Regions from separate parts of the Homo sapiens genome. Here region 2 is linked to region 1. A link means that fine-mapping ties the variant in region 1 to the expression of a gene that starts in the linked region. Tissue or cell type: whole blood. Region 1 holds a variant in brackets; the other region holds the start of a gene. All regions are shown on one strand. Distances are from middle to middle.

The links. PIP is the estimated chance that this variant, and not a neighbour inherited with it, causes the effect.
Region 2: XAF1 starts here. The variant in region 1 is fine-mapped to the expression of XAF1 in whole blood (TOPMed, PIP above 0.99).

What each region holds. Positions count from the first base shown.
Region 1 is chr17:6,774,309-6,778,658 of GRCh38, reverse strand. XAF1 (XIAP associated factor 1) reads right to left here. Exons shown (of 7, transcript NM_017523.5): 7 at 3,012-4,350. It overlaps FBXO39 (F-box protein 39), which reads right to left and starts at 2,444. Exons shown (of 4, transcript NM_153230.3): 1 at 2,387-2,444. It overlaps LOC124903905 (a long non-coding RNA gene), which reads left to right and starts at 2,549. Exons shown (of 3, transcript XR_007065594.1): 1 at 2,549-2,639. The variant T/A (reference allele first, on the strand shown) is at 2,148.
Region 2 is chr17:6,753,963-6,758,113 of GRCh38, reverse strand. It overlaps XAF1 (XIAP associated factor 1), which reads right to left and starts at 2,068. Exons shown (of 7, transcript NM_017523.5): 1 at 2,004-2,068; 2 at 1-25. The coding sequence starts at 2,035. RefSeq lists an enhancer at 1,892-2,411.

The DNA.
Region 1 (4,350 bases):
AGTTCAAGCCCTACCACTCCTTAAAGCTCTCACTGACTACTTTACCAGATAAACCCAAGATTATTGATCATGGCTCATAAAATTGTGGTGCTGGAAAGAGACCTGAGAATTGATTTCTTTTCAGATGAACACTGAAGGCCAGAGAGGTGAAGGGACTCACCTATAGTCTCACAGCAAGTTAGTATCGGGCCCCAGACTGGAACTTGGGCTTTTTGACTCTTTCTTCTGTACTTTTTTTTCCTGTCCCCACCTCTTGGACCACAAGGGTGCAGGGGCAAGTGAATCACATTTCCCAATTCAGGACTGACATTATTCGTCTGTGCAAGACCCCTCTCTAGTTTTATTTATTCATGTGTTCCATTTTAACCCTCTGTCCCATTCCGTTGCCCCCACCATAGGCAACTGTTCAAGTGTGTTTGACGTGTGTCTTTTTGTCTGTATGTGTGCTTGCCAAATGTGTACTTACTGTTTGTCGGACTTATTCCTGTGGCTCTGTGTACATTTCACCCATTGCGTCTAGCAGCTGAATAGAACCCATGGCAGGTATCCTGCCTGTCTCCCATCCTCTTTCCTTTGATGGACCCCAAGTCTCCTCCAGCTCCCACCAACACCACAGTGGCAGTGAGCATCCTCAAGTAAGCACAGTTGTGGGCCTCCCTAGGGACCTTCTCCAGGCTTTGTCCTCACTACGCCATCACTTTCTCTCACCACCCACTCACTGATTTGGCCCCTGTCTCCAGCTGGCCTTCCCACCGCCACATCCGAACAGACTTCCGTAAAGGACTGAACAGCAGCCCGTCCCGCCCATGACGTGGCGCCCTAGTGGTTCCCAGCATGGCTGTGTCCGTATTTAGCTTGCCTCCTTCTGCTACCTCTTGCCAGTGCCCCTCTTTGTATAATCTGTGTCCTTGCCTTTCTCTCCCAAGGGACCCACACACCCCTTGACAACCTCCTTCTGCTTTTGAGAAGGTACTTAAACATTTAACAAATGAAGAAATAGGTCTCTTCAATCACTTGCAAACTGCCCAAGGCTAGGGATCTCCACAGCACTCACCACCAAGCAAAGCTCCTAAAAGGTGCTGCAGAAGAGATAAACCAGTTTAAAAGCTCCACGAAGCAAAGACTTGGAATCAACCCAAATGCCCATCAATGATCGACAGGATTAAGAAAATGTGGCACATATACACCATGAAATACTATGCAGCCATAAAAAAGAATGAGTTCATGTCCTTTGCAGGGACATGGATGAAGCTGGAAACCATCATTCTCAGCAAACTAACGCAGGAACAGGAAATCAAACACTGCATGTTCTCACTCATAAGTGGGAGTTGAACAATGAGAACACATGGACACAGGGAGAGGAACATCACACAATGGGGCCTGTCGGGGGGTGGCGGGCAAGGGGAGGGAGAGCATTAGGACAAATACCTAATGCATGCGGGGCTTAAATTCTAGATGACAGGTTGATGGGTGCAGCAAACCACCATGGCACATGTATACCTATGTAACAAACCTGCATGTTCTGCACATGTATCCCAGAACTTAAAGTATAATAAAATAAATAAGTAAATAAAAGCTCCATGAAACCTTTTGGCCTAGCAAGGTTGTAGGTCAGGAAAAGTCATCAGACACTGGTGCTGTAAGGGTGGGGTTGGAAGAATATGTGTGTCTGGAAGAGTTGCTGTAAGGAGACTCCAAATTCTATTTAATGACTGGGAGCCTCCCCTTACCCCCCGAGACCCCATCAGAGGCAGTGTAGCTTAGTGGGCTGCATCCTAGCTATGCCCATTACAGTCGGATGACCTTAGGCAAGTCAATTTCTTTATGTGTGAATCCTCACATCTGTATATGGGGTAATAATAGTGCCTTTCTCTTAGTGTTGGGAGGATTAAGTGAGCTGATACCTGGAAAGCACCGGGAACAGTGAGTGCCTGCCACGTAGTAAACGCTATACAAGAGCTGGCTGCCATTAATAAGAAAGTTGGTGCCGAGGTACTTCTGCAACGTCCCGCCAAGGAAGATAGGAATACAAACACATCCATTTCACAAATACGGAAACGGAGGTGTTGGAAGGTGAATAAAGTTTCCCAGGGAGAACGTGTAGTAAGTGGGGAGATAGGATTCGAACCCAGGGTTGGTCCACCATA[T/A]CACACAGCTGCCAACCAGGGAGGGAAATCTAAAGATGTCCTACCCACCGCGGGAGGGGGAGTTGGCCTGGCAACTCCTGCAGCCAAAGATGCTTCCCAGAGGGGGTGATGAGAGCAGCCCGCCTCCCCGCCGCGGGCCTCGGGGCATCCCACCGCCACCCCAGCCTGCTCCGGCCCGCATTCTCCCGTTACCCGTTCGCTGAACCCCGCTCGGGCTGCAGGGACTGGAGCGCGCCTACCTGCTCCGCCCGCGCAGCTGTTGCTCCGACGCCAACTCCATGGGCGCCCCGGGTCTGCGCCTTGCTCTGGCCCAAGCTAAATGCCAAGCTCCGGCCGCCTTTGTGACGCGCTGCCGCCTGCAAGGCTCTGTTCCTGCCCCCGGGTCGCAGAGCCCCAAACCTGCAGTTGCCTGGTCAGTGGATCCCATGTGCAGAGGGCGAGACGGGGCCCTGGCCAGGCGTTGGGAGGCGGGAGGCTCGGCCGGCGCTCCGGGTGAGGATGGCACGCCCCCGCCCTTGCTTCTGCGCACAGGGAAGACATTCGGCCCCGAACTTGGGGCTCAAAACGGTTCAGTTCGCTGCCTTTCCCATCCTGACCCAGCCCCGGGTTTTTTCCGAAGCCGCCGCTGGATAGGTTGCATTACTAGGCTTCCCCCAGCCACTCTCCCTGCCCAAAGCCTTCAGAAGCCGCCCCTCTCCCCTTCACCTGGCCCTTATCCACTGTCCCAGCCTCATTTCTTTCCCCCTCCCTGAATGTCTTCTGCTCCCCTTTCCTTGGGCACTGCCCTTATCCTGGGGTCCTGGCTGCTGCCATTCCTGGCCCTGGAAAACCAGTGCGGAACCCAAAGAAAGGTGGAAGAGCAGCTTTTAGAGAGGTGTTTTTATTCTTTGGGGACAAAGCCGGGTTCTGTGGGTGTAGGATTCTCCAGGTTCTCCAGGCTGTAGGGCCCAGAGGCTTAATCAGAATTTTCAGACAAAACTGGAACCTTTCTTTTTTCCCGTTGGTTTATTTGTAGTCCTTGGGCAAACCAATGTCTTTGTTCGAAAGAGGGAAAATAATCCAAACGTTTTTCTTTTAACTTTTTTTTTAGGTTCAGGGGCACATGTGTAGGCTTGCTATATAGGTAAATTGCATGTCACCAGGGTTTGTTGTACAGATTATTTCATCATCCAGATAAAAAGCATAGTACCAGATAGGTAGTTTTTTGATCCTCACCCTCCTTCCATGCTCCGACCTCAGGTAGGCCCCAGTGTCTGCGGTTCCCTTCTTTGTATCCATGTGTACTCAATGTTTAGCTTCTACTTATAAGTGAGAACATGTGGTATTTGGTTTTCTGTTTCTGAGTGAGTTCATTTAGGATAATGGCTTCCAGCTCCATCCACGTTGCTGCACAGGACATGATCCCATTCTTTTTTATGGCTGCATAGTATTCCATGGTGTATATGTGCCACATTTTCTTTTTTTTTTTTTTAAGGCAGAGTCTCGCTTGGTTGCCCAGGCTGGAGTGCAGTGGCAGGATCTCGGCTCACTGCAACCACCACCTTCCAGGTTCAAGCGATTCTCACGCCTAGGCCTCCCAAGTAGCTGGGATGACAGGTGCTCGCCACCACGCCTGGCTAATTTTCGTATTTTTAGCGGAGACGGAGTTTCTCCATGTTGGCCAGGCTGGTCTCAAACTCCTGACCTCAGGTGAACCACCCGCCTCAGCCTCCCAAAGTGCTGGGATTACAGACATGAGCCACCACTCCCTGCCACCACATTTTCTTTATCCTTTCTACCACTGATGGACATTTAGTTTGATTCCCTGACTTTGCGATTGTGTATAGTGCTGCCGTGAACATTTGTGTATATATGTCTTTATGACAGAATGATTTAGATTCCTTTGGGTATATAACCAATAATGGGATTGCTGAGTCAAATGGTAATTCTGTTTAATCATGTCCCATTTGTCAATTTTTGCTTTCGTTACAATTATTTTTGGGATCTTTGTCATGAAATCTTTTTCCGTTCCTATGTCCAGAATGGTATTGCCTAGGTTATCTTCCAGAGTTTTTATAGTTTGGGGTTTTACATTTAAGTCTTTAATCCATCTTGAGTTGATTTTTGCATATGGTGTAAGGAAGTGGTTCAGTTTCAATCCTCTGCATATGGCTAGCTAGTTATCCCAGTACCACTTACTGAATGGGGAATTCTTTCCCCATTG
Region 2 (4,151 bases), 20 kb after region 1:
GTTGGCAGAGACTACATGTCTTTTACTACAGGGTCAAGGTGTGGGGATAGAAAAATAGACTTATTTTCATATTATAAAACATGGAGCTGTATTTCATACCCAGGGCTAGATCTCCAGAGGCCTTAAGCACTGAACATGTGATGATGATGACACCACCTGCCCCACACTCCCTGTGTGGGTCCAAAAGTCAGAACAGTGAGGCAGCATCTAATAAGAATAAGGATGATCTACAGAGCTCTTACATTGCTGGGGCAGGGCATGGGAAGGAGCAGGAGGGAGGAATTACAAAGGGGCATGGGGAGCTTTTGGGGTGACAGGAAGCTTCATTATCTCAATTACGGGGATGGTGTTTCATGGATGTATATAACTTAGGCCAAAACTTATCAATTGCTACCCTTTAAAATGTGAGGTTTATTGTAGGTCAATTATACCTCTATAAGGCTGTTTTTAAAATGAAACATTTCATTTTAAATAATGTAAATAATTAAATTATTTCAATTTAAATAATTTGAGAGAAGTGCCAAATTCTCTTGAATCTTTTTTCTTGTTTTCTGGTGCCCCTGTTTGGTCCACAGTGTTAGGAACGCAGCCCTGCTAGGCTCACGCTTCCTGCCAGGGCCATGCCAACTTCCAAAATCTCCAAAGCGAGAGCTTCCCAAGTCTCCCCTGCCTTCAGGTTCACCTGCGCTAACTCACAGAGACTCCGAGGTTCTTCCTGGAGACCACAGTGAAGGAAGGGTTCTGAGCCTCCCACTTCCTGGGCAGGGCATTTTTCTCTAACCGTCCTTTTTGCCAAGAAGTGCCCCCTTTTGGCTGGGTGTGGTGGCTCATGCCTGTAATCCCAGCACTTTGGGAGGCCGAGGCGGGTGGATCACCTGAGGTCAGGAGTTAGAGATCAGCCTGGCCAACATGGTGAAACCTCATCTCTACTAAAACAATACAAAATTAGCCGGGCATGGCGGTGCACGCCTGTAATCCCAACTACTCGGGAGGCTGAGGCAGGAGAATCACTTGAACCCGAGAGATGAAGGTTGCAGTGAGCTGAAATCGCGCCATTGCACTCCAGGCACTCCAGCCTGGGCAAAAAGAAGCGAAACTCCATCTTAAAAAAAAAAAAAAAAGAAGAAGAAAGAAAGAAATGACTCCTTTCATTTCCATCAGCTCTTGCTTGTGGCAGCTTGGGAGAAGGGAAATGGGGTGGCTGTAGCCGTAAAGGCCCAGGGGACGAGAAGAGTTACATGCCCATGTTCCTGGCACAGGGGACGTGCTCCGAGAGGGACTGTCAAAGCCTCACTCCTCTTCTGCCCAGGCAGCGGGCACACAGGCAGCATCATCTTCCCTTCCTCTGCTCTCTCTCCTCTGCCTGACCTGGCCCCTTCTCCCCCTGCTCTTCCTGGGCTGGTTGAGAAACCAGAGTACTTGAAGGGTCTGGCTGGAGCAAAGCTCTCTGGGGAGGGTCCACTCAGGTCCCTGTCACAGGTAGGGAGCTTTGAGAATGGGGCTTTTTGATCGGTCAGATTCCGCGCCCCCCCTCCCGTTAGAGGTGTGGTCCCAGCCCCCTGCTCTGTCCCCCCTGCCCCGCCCCACGGCTCCCTTTCCAAGGAGGGTGAGAGTAGTCCTGGAGAATCTCCGTGGGACACTTTCTTTCACAGATGGGTGTGAAGGTCATAGTATCAGAACCCCAAATTAGGACCCAAGGTCTCACAAGTATGAGTAGCCCAGTTGGGACCACTGGCCGGGCTATTTGGCTTCAGAACTGTCCCAGAAAGCCTAACATTTGGGGGAAAGGGGCTGCAGTGAAGTGGAGGTAATGCTGCCCACCCCCACCCAGAGATTACCAAGTTTAAACCCTCCTACCCTTGGGGCCCACGGTCTCCAGCTGCTTGTCCTCCTAAGTGTTCTTATGCAGGAACCACTTTCTGCTCCCTTCAGAAACAGCCCTATGTCGTCTACGTCTCTCCCTCGCCAGCCCGGGTCTGCCGCTGGAGAAAGCACTTTCTTACCAGTTCCTGCACACCGAGAAGTCTCCTTCCATGTTCTGCTCTCTGCAGGCTTTCGGTTGAGTTTCGTTTCTTGCAGGCAAGGAAACAAAACTGAAAGTTTTCCGATGGCCCAGCCCACAGCTTCAGGGAGGGAGGAGATCTTCAGAATTCTCGGCTCAGGAGTTCCCCTTGATTCCTGAGGCTGGACCCTCCCAAGAAGCCCCTTTACAGCATGGCCAGCCCCTGCTGTCGCCCTTGGCCGTCATTCTTTGCTGCTGTCACAGCCGCATCTACCTCCCTGAGGCTGGCAGCCTGAGGCCAGGCCTCTCCTGGGCAGCACAGCAGCTTGTTCCCTCACCCTGGCTGGCTGGCTTCTCTCCGTCTGGGTCTCCATCCCTTTTCCAAACCATCCACCTCCCACCCTTCTCCCCCATCTCCGGCTCCCTTCTGGTCCTCCCCTGCAGGAAAGAGGGAACTTGCCATGTTGAGCTTGAATGCTGTTCCCTAAAAATGGCTCCTGGACTTCCAGGCGGTGAGGACCTTGCAAACAGCGTCCAGGGAGGCTCTGGGGATGCAGGGTGGTGTGAGCCCAGACCCAATCTGGTGTGTATCCTCCTGGGGGTCCTTAGAGTTTTTCCAGACCCTAGAAACAGCTGTGCTAACAGAAGAACTCTAAACAACATCTGGAGTGATGACAAGCAGGCCCAGAGAATTCCCGTGGCGTCTGCCAATGGGGTGGGTGCCGCCTCTCTGAGGAGGATAACAAGATTAAGGGAAATGTCCAGGCAGGGCTCCAGCCTCCAGGCAGGCTCTAAAATTCAGGCACTAAATGAGAAGCAGTGTGTGGTGGTACTGATGATCACAGTGATAGGAGGGAAGAATGAAAGACTGTTTCAACATTGTTCCTATGTTCCAGGCACCATTCTAAGCATTAGGTAGGCATTGTCTTCGTTTTAATCCCTCATGTAAGCATTATTAACTCCATTTTGCTATGGAAAACAGAGGCAGTGACAGAGTGAGACTCTGCCTCAAAAAAGAAAAATGAAATGAAAAAAGAGAAAATGGAGGCAGAGAGAGGCTAGGCCAATCGCTCAACATCAGAGCTGGGATTCACACCAGGTTGATATGACTCAGGTGTCTATGTACCTAACCAAGGCCCCATCCACCTCATTTGACAGCTAGTTGGGGTAGTGAGCACTTGGCTGAGAGTCAGAGACTGAGGTTTGCATCTTATCTTGTTCCCTTCCTCATCGGCTAGGCAAGCTCCTTAATCCTTCTGACCCTCACTACCCACTCCTGTCTGTCTCTGGGCAGTCTGTCAATATCAAGAATGAAAAACGAGTGGGCTTGGCTTGGTGGCTCATGCCTGTAATCCCAGCACTTTGGGAGGCCGAGGTGGGCGGATCACGAGGTCAGGAGTTCGAGACCAGCCCGACGAACATGGTGAAACCCCGTCTCTACTAAAAATACAAAAATTAGCTGGGTATGGTAGTGCTTGCCTATAATCCCAGCTACTCAGGAGGCTGAGGCAGGAGAATTGCTTGAACCCAGGAGGTGGAGGTTGCAGTGAGCCGAGATTGCACCACTGCACTCCAGCCTGGGCAACAGAACGAGACTCTGTCTCAAAAAAAAAAAAAAAAAAAAAGGGCTGTGCGCGGTGGCTCATGCCTGTAATCCCAGCCCTTTGAGAGGCCGAGGCGGGTTGATTATGAGGTCAGGAGATTGAGACCATCCTGGCCAACACAGTGAAACCCCGTCTCTGCTAAAAACTACAAAAAATTAGCCGGGCGAGGTGGCGGGTGCCTGTAGTCCCAGCTACTCGGGAGGCTAAGGCAGGAGAATGGCGTGAACCCAGGGTGGAGCCTGCAGTGAGCCGAGATCGCGCCACTGCACTCCAGCCTGGGCGACAGAGCGAGACTCTGTTACAAAAAAAAAAAAAAGAAAGAAAGACAGGAAGAAAGAAATGGAAAAGAAGGAAAAATGAAGAACTTTCTTTTCACATATTGTCTCCTGCTGAGATGGGATAGGGGTGGTGGCAGGGGTGTATAGATTGGACACCTTAGAGGAATGGAATGTGTGGCCAGGGGATAGGAGTGGAATTAGAAGTGACCATAAGTTGCTTCTCATCTACATCCTAATTTTCTTCCAAGATGTTTCCTCCTATAGACT